Linked DNA regions of Homo sapiens: region 2 is linked to region 1. Evidence: fine-mapped expression QTL. A gene starts in region 1. The other region holds a variant in brackets. All regions are shown on one strand. Distances are between the middles of the regions. Region 1 holds the start of GMDS (GDP-mannose 4,6-dehydratase). Region 2 overlaps GMDS (GDP-mannose 4,6-dehydratase).

Region 1 (5,377 bases):
GCCATGCAGGTGTTTTAAGTTGGAAATGAAATGAGGAACCAAAAAATTCCAGTCAGGGAGTGGTCTGCTGAGTGTGGTGCTTCAGGTAGACTCCCATGACAGGCTGCAGGACAAACTAGAGTGGGGGCCCACTTCCATACCTTCCTGGCCACTCAGTTCCAGCCAAATGACTGCTCTTAAAAGTCAAAATTAGGTTCCATTTCTAATCTGCACTGATTCATACTGCTGGTCGTGTAAATTGGTATAGGCCACACCAACACAGCACATTAGTTAAGATGTTAATCTTAACTAATTTCCGGACAATACTAAAATAAAATCTCTACTTTCCAGAGATTAGGTAAACTTGGTAAACATTTGAGCTTCAGGTCCAGTCTGACAAAATGGAAAAAAGGGAATCATCTGCAGAAAGGTCCCAGCATTAGAAAACAAAGAGAAGGGGGAGGACAGTATGTAGGCCCTGACCTGTCTTACTGCCTCAATTCAAGGATTCAATTTCTCAACCTCAGATCCTTGCCCTCTTACTAGTTTTCAAACTCAGATCCACCTCTTACTAGTTTTCAAACTCTTGTCTATTATGATTACCTTAAGCAAAGCAAGATGCATGAATAACCAGCAGTAAATCAGGTATTCAATACTTGAAATTGTGTAATATTCTGTGACTGTGCATCTGGCCAATTTCAACTTCTCCTTCTTTTTTTTTTTTTTTTTTTTTTTTTTTTTTTTTGAGGCAGGATCTCACTCTCTTGCCCCAGGCTGGAGTACAGTGGTACCATCATTGCTCACTGCAGCAGCCTCAGACTCCCGGACTCAAGTGATCCTCCTGCCTCAGCCTCCTGAGTAGCTAGCACTACAGGTGAGCACCAACATGCCTGCCTCATTTTTTAAATTTTTTTGTAGAGACAACGTCTCAATATGTTGCCCAGGCTGGTCTCAAACTCCTGGCCTCACCTCGAGCAATCCTTCCACCTCTGCACACCGAAGTGCTGAGATTTCAAGTATGAGCCGCTGCCTCCTGCCCACTTAGCCCTTTCTAACACTAGAGAACTTTGAGAGTGGTTTCAATACCAACTGGACACTTCCCAGCGGTTTAACCTCAGGCAAATCAAACTCCCATGCCTCAGTTTCCACATATATAGAGATAATAAAAGTACCTCCTCAAAGAGTTTGTTATGAGAACTAAATGAGTTAATGTTAGGCAAGCGACTGGAACATGATAGACACAATATGTATTAGCCATTATCACCTTTATCTCAGTGTTATATTGGCCACCACCCAGAGATACCCAGGAGCACACACATCACATTCTTTCTACAGCAATATGTGGGCACGATTACTTCATGACCACTGAATCTAAAACAGCACAGCTTGGTAAGACACAGCGGTCGGATCCCACCTACTGCAACACCTCTAAGAGGCGACCCTCACAAACCAGCCATGCTTAGCCTGAGACATTCCGAAGACCTCCTCTTGATTACCTTACTCGACGAACTTATTCCTTTGAAAATGGAACTAGCCGCACTTTTGGACCAGTGTGCCTCGGATACACTTCCAAATGTGTCAACCTGAATCTCAGAAGTTGGCGTGATTTTAAAAAGTTTTTTAAGTTCTTTTTCCTAAACATGTCCTAGTAGGTGACTCCACAGCATTACTTTCTTTCATGTTCTCTTTTCTATCTGGAAATCCGGTGATAGGGGACGAAACCAGCAAAGCACCCTTTTTCTTGCTTCCCAAACGTTAGCAGGTAAGCGCCCCTTGAGCCGAGACACATCAAGAAGACCTCACCCGCAAGTTCATTGATCACCGGTTCTTTTCCCTTTCCGGCACTAGGAGCTGCGAAGCACGACATGGGCTTGGAGGAAGAGACGCTGCGGTCACCTGAGGGGCAGGTGAGAGCGGGCGGTCCTGCCCGGGTGTGAGCGCGACATCCCGCGCGGCACACACGCTCACAGCCCCCAGAGAAAGACCAGAGGCGCTCGATGTATCCCGCACACCCCACACGCAACACACTAACTGCACCGTACCTTCCGTCCCACCTCCCGGCAGCAGACCCCTTCCGGGACGCCGAGAGGGCTGTTCCTGGAGAGACCGCAGCCCACGAGTAGCGGCGCGTAGGGAGAGCACGCGTGCCCAGGCTGCCTCGGCCGGCGCGCCCCCGCCCCCGCACTCACCTGGCCTGTGATACCGGTGATGAGCGCCACGTTCCTGGGCTTGCCCATCTCGCCGTCCCCGGAGCCCCGGGCGCTGGGGCAGCGTGCCGGTGCGTGTGCCATGTCCCGCGGCGGGCGTGCGGTCGGCGGCAGGGCGGAGCGCGGCAGAGGGCAGGCGCGGTGCCGGCAGGAACGCGGGGGTGTGCAGCACGAAGCGCCTCTCCAGGCTGCGGGCAGGGAGGGAGAGCGCACCGCGCGACCGGCCGCCACAGTCTGACAGGGGCGCACGGGAGGCCGTGCAGGGAGGGCCGGGGGCGGGCCGAGCCGGCCAAGGCGGGCCCGACGGGCCAAGCAGCGGGGCTGCGGCCTGACTGGCGCAGCGTCATTCGCGTCAGCCGGCGACGCTGTAGCAGGCCCCGCCCCTCCGCCGACGGCCACCGCGCGGGAGGGGCGGGGCCTGCCGCCGCCACCGCCTCAGGGAAGAGGAAGGAGGCCGCGGCTTCGCGTCCCGCCTCTCGCCTGGCTGGCCGTGGGGGGCCTGGACGCAGTGGCCTCCCGAATCTCCCAGGACCCTAATATCGCCCGAGGATGCTGGGAGGAACGCTGAGCCGACCTCTCCGTTAGGCTGAAGGTCTGAATTTTCAAACCCAGGGGTCACAGGGCCGGGGTCATGGACTTTGATAAATAATTCCTGGAAACCTGTTGCAGTGCCCTTTGAGAAGCCCGGTTTATGGTACCTGAAGGGCAGTAGCGTACAAGGCCCGTAAACGGGGGTCACAGATGTGGGAGTGACTAACTAGGCTGGCTCTCGCTCTTCTGGCCTTTCCTGAGGCTCGGAACCAGTAACGAGGTTCCAAATAGCTGAATTCAAAGTTTTCTCTTCTGAGGACTGCCAGTGCACAAGAAAGTCCCTAGCCCCACCCGTATGCGGCATAAGGAAATGTTGAAAAGACTGCCCGGGTCAATAAACCTGGACGTGGCAGATTTCAAAGAAAGTAATTCAAACACAGGTGGGGTCCCGGCTTACATCTGTTGGATTTGGCTGCCATTTGGCAGCTGCTCGTTGGACAGGGAGAGGAGAGGAGGTGACTCAGAGCCGGGAGGGCAGCAGGTGTGTGTGCCTAAGCAGTTGGCTGCAATCCAGGACACAGACGGAAACTTCCCGGTCTCCGTTGCTCTGCTTCTCTGTCCACATTCCTCTCCCTAATCGATAACTTCAGATCATCATTTCAAATCACAGAGTTACTAGGGCTGTGCCCAATATAACGTGCAAGAGTATGTATAGCAGACCTGGAACCCCAAAATCAGAAAAGCTCAGGATTACATTTAAAACCTCCCTCTCGCGCTCCTCGAGGTCCGTTAGGAATATTTCTTAGCTATAGATAGACTGGTCTGGTTTCACACCTGGCCTCTCCTCTGCGTTCTATGAGGAGAATGGCTCAACAAACATCTGATGGTGCCTCTGAGTGATGAAGAGACCCTGAAGCTGAGGAGAGGGAACACTTCCATTGAGAGGAACATGCTATAAGCTAGAAATGTCTGTGAAATATACGGGAATATGCTAAAACTATACTCATTTTCATGTAAATACGCTTTAAATTAATGCATGAGCCAATTATTTAACATTTTCCTTAAAAAAATCACTGAGCAAGCCGGGCGCAGTGGCTCACGCCTGTAATCCCAGCACTTTGGGAAGCTGCGGCAGGTGGATCACCTGAGGTCAGGAGTTCAAGACCAGCCTGGCCAACACGGTGAAAACCCGTCTCTACTAAAAATACAAAAAATTAGCCAGGCGTGGTGGTGGGCACCTGTAATCCCAGCTACTCTGGAGGCTGAGGCAGAAGAATCGCTTGAACCCGGGAGGAGGAGGTTGCAGTGAGCCGAGATCTTGCCATTGCGTTCCAGCCTGGGCAAGAAGAGCAAAACTCCATCTCAAAAAAAAAAAAAAAAAATCACTGAGCAAAACTGATACTTATGGGAGATATGACACATTTATCCTGTAGTTTTGAGACCTCCTATCACACAAACACTGGAAGTTGACACCAGTCAATTTCCTGTCACACCACCAAACACCTGCCCTAGAAGTGTGTGACAGTAGAAGAAAAATGGAAAAAAAATCAACATTATTAGGGCCTGAAAATATTTATAAAATGATGGGAAATGGTAGGTCAGAGGAAGCTTGAAGAATAAAGGCTATTTCTCTAGAGAACTTTTCTGAAGACAGGTGGTAGGTCTGCTACAGCAACGTACCATCCATAGGGTGACAAACGATAGAAATTTATTTCCTCACAGTTCTGGAGACTGGAAGTTTAGGATCAAGGGCTGATTTCTTCTGAGGCCTCTCTCCTTTTCTTGTAGCTGGCTGTCTTCATGTTCACATGGCGTTCTCTCTGTATGTGTGTCTGTGTCCAAACTTCCTGTTCTTATAAGAACACCAGTTACATTTGATTAGGACCCTCTTTAATGACCTTATTTCCAAATACAGTCACATTTTGAGCTACTAAGAGTTAAGACATCAATATATTAATTGGGGGAGGGACAAAATTCAACCCATGATTGACAGCTAGAGGGAAAAAGAGGTTCTTTTTTTTAACTGTTTGTGGGCTCGGAGGGAGGAGGTTGGTAGTGGAGGTTGTTGTCATTTTCCCAGTAGCATTAGGGCAACTTGAACAACGTCAGCACAGGGTCTGGGGCAGCATAAGAAGATTACATTAACTAGAAGTAAAGCGACCAGCGGTAGTGGAAAGCTCTAAGGGTGATGGCTCAGTTGTGTTTTCCTCTAACACAGTTCTCATCCCTGGGTGATTTTGCCCCCAGGGGACATTTGACAATGTCTGGAGGCATTTTTGATTGTCACAAATGGAGTTGTGCTATAGGTATCTAATGAGTAGAGGTTAAGTATTTTGCTCACCATCTGCAGTGCACAGGAAGCTCCCACAACAAAGATTTTTCTAGCCCAAAATGTCAATAGTGCTGAGGCTGAGTAACCCTTCTCCAGGAGGCCAGTGAAAGATGTTAACAAGCGGGTGGTTGAACTGACAGACACTGGCTATACTATACAGTGACTTCATGGTATGTCAGAAGAAGCAAATACATTTGGTAGCTAATTGTTGATGCTGATACCTTTACTCACAAACTTGGCTAATCTCCAGAAACATACTAGCTGCTGAGGGTATAGCAGTAGAGGAGAAATAATCTTCAAGGGGCTATAATCTGAAAGGGATATGATA
Region 2 (5,377 bases), 530 kb before region 1:
ACTGTGCCCGGCCTCACTTTTTCAGAAATTTAAAAAATGTTGTTCTAAATGACTATCATCTTACACAATCATATATTTAAGTTCTTTGCACTTACATTAAAAAAAAAAAAGAAAAACATTGAAGATTCTAGGTGAAGAGAAAAAGGAATATCATGCCACCAGGTTTCCGGAAGACCTTGGTTCCACGATACCAATACCAGCCATGATGGCCATTCACTGAGTAGAACTTATTTCTCACTTTGTAATTCAGAAAGTTTCAGAGTAGCAGAGAAACGCGTGTCATGGGGAAAGCCAGAGAACTGAGTGTCTTTTATGCTAGGTGACACTTTGTTCCACAAATATAGCCTCAGAGTGGGTAAAGGAAAGATGGTGGCTGACAATGGGGCATTTCTTATGGAGGCTCAGAGCCGGCAATGCCTCCAGTTGGCAGTCGTACTCTCTTCAGACAGAAGCAACCTTGGATGCCTTTTGCATATGCATTATTGTTGATGCTGTCTGCCAAGACTTCAAGATACTATGAGATTTTCCCACAATGTGCATATGCTGTGGATGCCGGAGGCATCATGCCCTAGTGGTCTAAGGGTGGAGCCGGGCTGCAGTGGCTGTAATATGGCATCACCAGGTCTTCCTGTGGAGAGGAGCCAGGGAGCACATCTGGAGTGCTGAGCTTGTGTGAGACAGTTGGGATAGATCAACAAGAAAGGTGCAGAGGGAAGTGGAGAAACGAACAGAACCTATGAAAATAAGAGTTTCAGAACAGATGAAGAAAAAAGGAGAGAACATCAGCAGAAACATAAGGAGACAGGAAAGTGGCAGAAATGAAAGAATTAGTGAAAAGACATGTATAGAGGTAAAGCAATAGAAACGAAATATGACCTTTTCAAAGGTTGGATATACAAGTGTAAGTTGTGAGTGAACTTAACACTCATCTTGCCATGGAATCTCAAATAGAAAGAGGAACATTATTATTTTTATTCCCTTTGCTATTTAGTATAGTTTAGACTATTGCTCTCTAATAGTTTAATACACTGGTTTGAATAATTTTGGTTCTATCAGAGCTGGCTGTAAAGCATAAGAATGATTCTTTGGCAATGTGCACATTCATTCATTCTTTATCCCCTGACAATGTGCCAGGTCGTCTTCAAGGCCCTCCGATGTCATTCTTCCCCCAGGACCCCAGGTGGAAATGACCCATCACAATGCAATGGGATAAGCGGTAAGTGCTGACTGCCTGGGGGAACAGGTGCAGGCTGCACCAAGGAGCTGACACTTGTGCAGGGTCTTGTAACTAATATTGCATCAGTTTTTTCAACATGCCTATTGAGATCAGTGGGAAAATACTCATCGTTATGTTGTAGCAGGAAAAACAGAAGTAAGGAGAGGTTAGGAGCTTCTAGAAGACTTCAAAAGTTTGAGAGCTGGGAATAAAAGGTGTTGAGATACATACTTTAAAACTTATAATGCAAGCTAGTAGGACATATTCAAACTACCACTATACTTTTTAAATTTTAGAATTTCAATAAGGGACTATAGTACTTTCTAATCCTCCACAACAAAAACTGATTCAGAAACAAATACGTCTTATTAACTTCAATACCTTAGTAACTTGCCTTAGAAAAAATGACAAATTCCCCAAAATTCAAACAGCAGGTTTTAGATGACGATGTTAGGCACATTTTTCTCCACTGACCTCTTTTCAAAAAATAATAGAAACAGCCTGAATTTAAAATATACAGTGTCTTTCTAATACCACTGTGAAAAACATTCACACAGAATTAATTTCATTCTCAACAAAATCCCTGGAAAATAGGGAAACATTTCATTATGAAGTCGAAGAATATGTAAAAAAAGATTAAAAACATCTTTAGATTGGTTTTCTCTGAGTTACTGTTAAGGATCCACGTTTATGCTATAAACAAATCTCTCTCATGAAAGTAAGGCCTTCCCTATTCCTGGCTCTGCCTTTTAATCACTGAAACAGCTGGGAACTGTTTAAGAATTTGTCTCAAACACAAAACTTGTTTAACTAACTTAATGGAACAGGTGAGGAGACACTCTTCCAGAATTTGAACCCATCAGGGGTCAGATGGCAGGTATCAAAAGACAGATTAATGGTATCAGAATAGTGGCCATGTGGAGTTTAATGATGACATATGACTGGTTTTAAGACTCGTGACAGCAAGAAAGAAAAAGGCAAGAAAATAGGAGGTACAAATAAGAGGAGTGGCTAAGCTGCTGCACAGACAGGCTTGGAGGTGAGGCGGTGAAGAGGGGTGGCCTGCTGGCTGCGTGAGAGAAGGCCTGGCCAGGGCAGGGTGTGGTGATATTGGCTCTACCAGCCTTGCTTCTCAGGGTTCCCAGACTGGGCCACCCACCCACTCCACCTGACAGAGTCCCTGCCTATGTCTCTGTTCATGCGGCTGGTTCATTCCCACAGCACCTCCTGCCCCAATTGTGAATTCTTTCCCAGTTCTTACACCCCGTCCCCCAACTCTCTCTTTTAATTACAAATCTTTCCAAAGCCCTGCTCTAAAACTCCCCTTTATTAGGAAGCCTGTCCTTGTCCCTCAGGCTCAAGTACGACCTGTCCTCATTTCCAGTTGCCCAAATGTATCAGCGGTGTTTTCTGAGTGTGTACATTATGCAATTTTAAATAGATGATGCACCAGCGTCTTCCATTTTGGTTTAGTCCGCAAAGTGATTAACAACATGCTATCCATTCCATGGAAAACACTAGCCCAGCACCGGTTCCAAGTGATTAACTCAGTATTCCCTGCCAAGAGAAAATCTCACTGTCCAAGAACTCTGGAGCCTCAACAAGGAAGGTGGCTTTGCCAGCACCTTGATTTAGCTCAGTGGGACTCCATTTGGTCTTCTGACCTCCAGAACTGTAAGACAATGAATCTGGGTAGTTTTAAGCCACTAAGTTTGTGATTACTTGTTACATCAGCAATAGTAAACCAACATAGATTTTAGACTATCAAAGTGACACTCAGCTGGCTCTAGGGAGCAAGTACAAAGATGGGTTTTTGCAGACAGGTTTCCAAGGGAGGAGCATGGGGGGTGGTTGGCAGATAAAAGCAGATGATAGCCTGATGTCTTCCTTGGTGGCTGCTCTCTAGCCTACTGGGGATACTGCAGTTCTAGGAGGAGCTGTAGAGCTTGCTGGATCTCAGCGCCTGTCACACTCCCTTGAAACATACCGTTTAGGCAGAATCAGAAGTCGATCACCAATTCAGCATATCCCT[A/G]CCTTCCACCACGATCATCCTTTCTACCCCTGGGTCAAGAAGCACACAGCTGGCAGTACTAAGGAACAAGTAACTTTTTCTGCATGAAGATCTATAGGTATAAAACAAAATAAATATTTAAATAAAAAATGTCAGGAGTTGAAGAGCCCAAAGCATCCTTTCAGAAGATGTCTTTTGATAACTAATAATTTCACAAGAGTATATGATAATGATAATTAATAATGATGACTAATAAAATGACAATATGCAGCACAAAGTACCTTACACTTATAAAAGCCCTTTCATCTTTAAGAATTTGAAAATGCTTTGCAACCTGACTTCCAGGACATAGTGATTTGAAATTGGGTCTCTGCTTGCCCCCTGAAACTCAGTTTTTCTTGGATTGAGATGAAGTAATCATCTGCCAATTAATGTAACTCTTTGATATTAGCTCTTTACACATTAATCTGGCCCTATGGCTCTCAGATACAAGTGCTTAGTTTGTGTATGCTGTGAATTATTAACCTACTTTTTCAAAATATGTTTCTGAGACTTACCTCCTGGAATTCGAATTTGCCTGGCTCTGCGACCAGCTCCCTGTGCACACTCTTTTTCCCCCCTAGAAATGCTCCTTCAGGGAGTTTATGTATGTCAGGATTTCAGCTCTTGCACATCTTGCACATCTAGGCCCTAGCCCTGACCTCTTTTCTCTACACTAGGCCTCCAGCTCCAACTGCCTCCCTCATTTTGCAGCACAGATATCCCGAAGGCACCGGGAGTGTGACGGAACACCTCAACACCTCCCCCTGCAAAGTAAGTCTTCTCGCTGGATCTCTGATCTGGGTTCCAGCATCGTCACCTCCCCACTACCCTACATGGTTCAGCCTCTGTCCTGGGAGTCAACCTCAGCTCTGTCTTCTCTTCCACATGTCCTTAGTCCACTCTGATTCCATGGTCTCCATCTCTGCCATGTTCTGGCACCTGTCACTGTTTCTCTCGCCTGGGCTGCCCTGGTTCCGTGAGTCCCTCATTACACCCACCCCACCCCGGGCTGTCCCGGCAGCTTCGCAGCTGCTTCCCTTTCATCTGAGAGTTTCTATTGGACAAGGACCTTATCTCATCTATCTTTAAATTTCTTGGTGTTAGACTGGGACTTACCTCTACGGTAATGGAATGTTCAATAAACATTCTTTTCAAAATTGAATGTTAAAAACTCAACCATGTATTTTCATATATATACATATATATATATTTCATATATATATATTTTCTCATATATACTGATATATATCTGAGAAGCTGAAGGTAAATCAGAATTATATTTTAAATGTGCATGGTCAATGTACTATCTAAAATATTCCTGTAATAAATCCTAAAACCTGCAGAATCTTTTAGTACCTACACACAGTCACTTATTTTTTAGTTTGGATATTGTTACACCAGGTTTTCATGGGGGCAAGGCATACCTGATTTACTCAGGAAACTAGCAAATTGATGACAGCATTACAAAATGTACAAGGTAGATTTTGCTATTAAGGACAGTTCCTATTGCTGAGTAACAGCGGAATGAAACCAGGTATTTACTGATGGGCCAAACCTGGTAAGCATTTGTCTAGGAGGCAGATCAGAGCTACTAAGTTGGGACGGAAGCCCGTCAGTGGTGGACCTATCACCTTGGCAGTTAATGACAAAAGGAGCCAGACGAGTTTTTGCCTTTGCTACTAGATGTAACAGTGGATAGAGAAGCCGGCCTGGCATGAGCCACAGGTGTGGGCAGTGAGGTGGTGGGAGAAGGCATGCAGGGTGAGAAAGGTGGCGCAGAGCCCACGGTAGATGGGCATGACTACATTTCAGCCCCAGAATATTCTAGTGTCTGCAGAGCAACTGTTTTCAAGTAAAGAAGGTGCTGGGAAAACAATCAAATTTGATAAAAAATAATTAACTTTATCGAGAGCATGAGGCAGAACGGGGTGAGAGAAACCACAGGCAGTATTATCTGTGAAATCTCCATGAACACAGATTTTTGGATTGCTGTTATTTTGGAAGATAAATAAGGCTTGGTGGAACAGGAAGAGCACTGCTGATTTGTTTAAAAAAAAAAAAGAGAGAGGGATTTTTTAGATTTCCGAATACAGAGGTCATCGGCCAAA

What was found.
Region 2: its variant is fine-mapped to the expression of GMDS in whole blood (TOPMed, PIP above 0.99).

What each region holds. Positions count from the first base shown.
Region 1 is chr6:2,243,153-2,248,529 of GRCh38, forward strand. GMDS (GDP-mannose 4,6-dehydratase) reads right to left here and starts at 2,453. Exons shown (of 11, transcript NM_001500.4): 1 at 2,169-2,453. The coding sequence starts at 2,270. It overlaps GMDS-DT (GMDS divergent transcript), which reads left to right and starts at 2,601. Exons shown (of 7, transcript NR_046229.1): 1 at 2,601-2,778. RefSeq lists an enhancer at 2,095-2,595 and a silencer at 2,096-2,725.
Region 2 is chr6:1,714,305-1,719,681 of GRCh38, forward strand. All of the region lies in intron 9 of GMDS (GDP-mannose 4,6-dehydratase), which reads right to left. Among named protein-coding and RNA genes, the nearest start is that of FOXC1, 110 kb to the left of the region's middle. The variant A/G (reference allele first, on the strand shown) is at 3,249.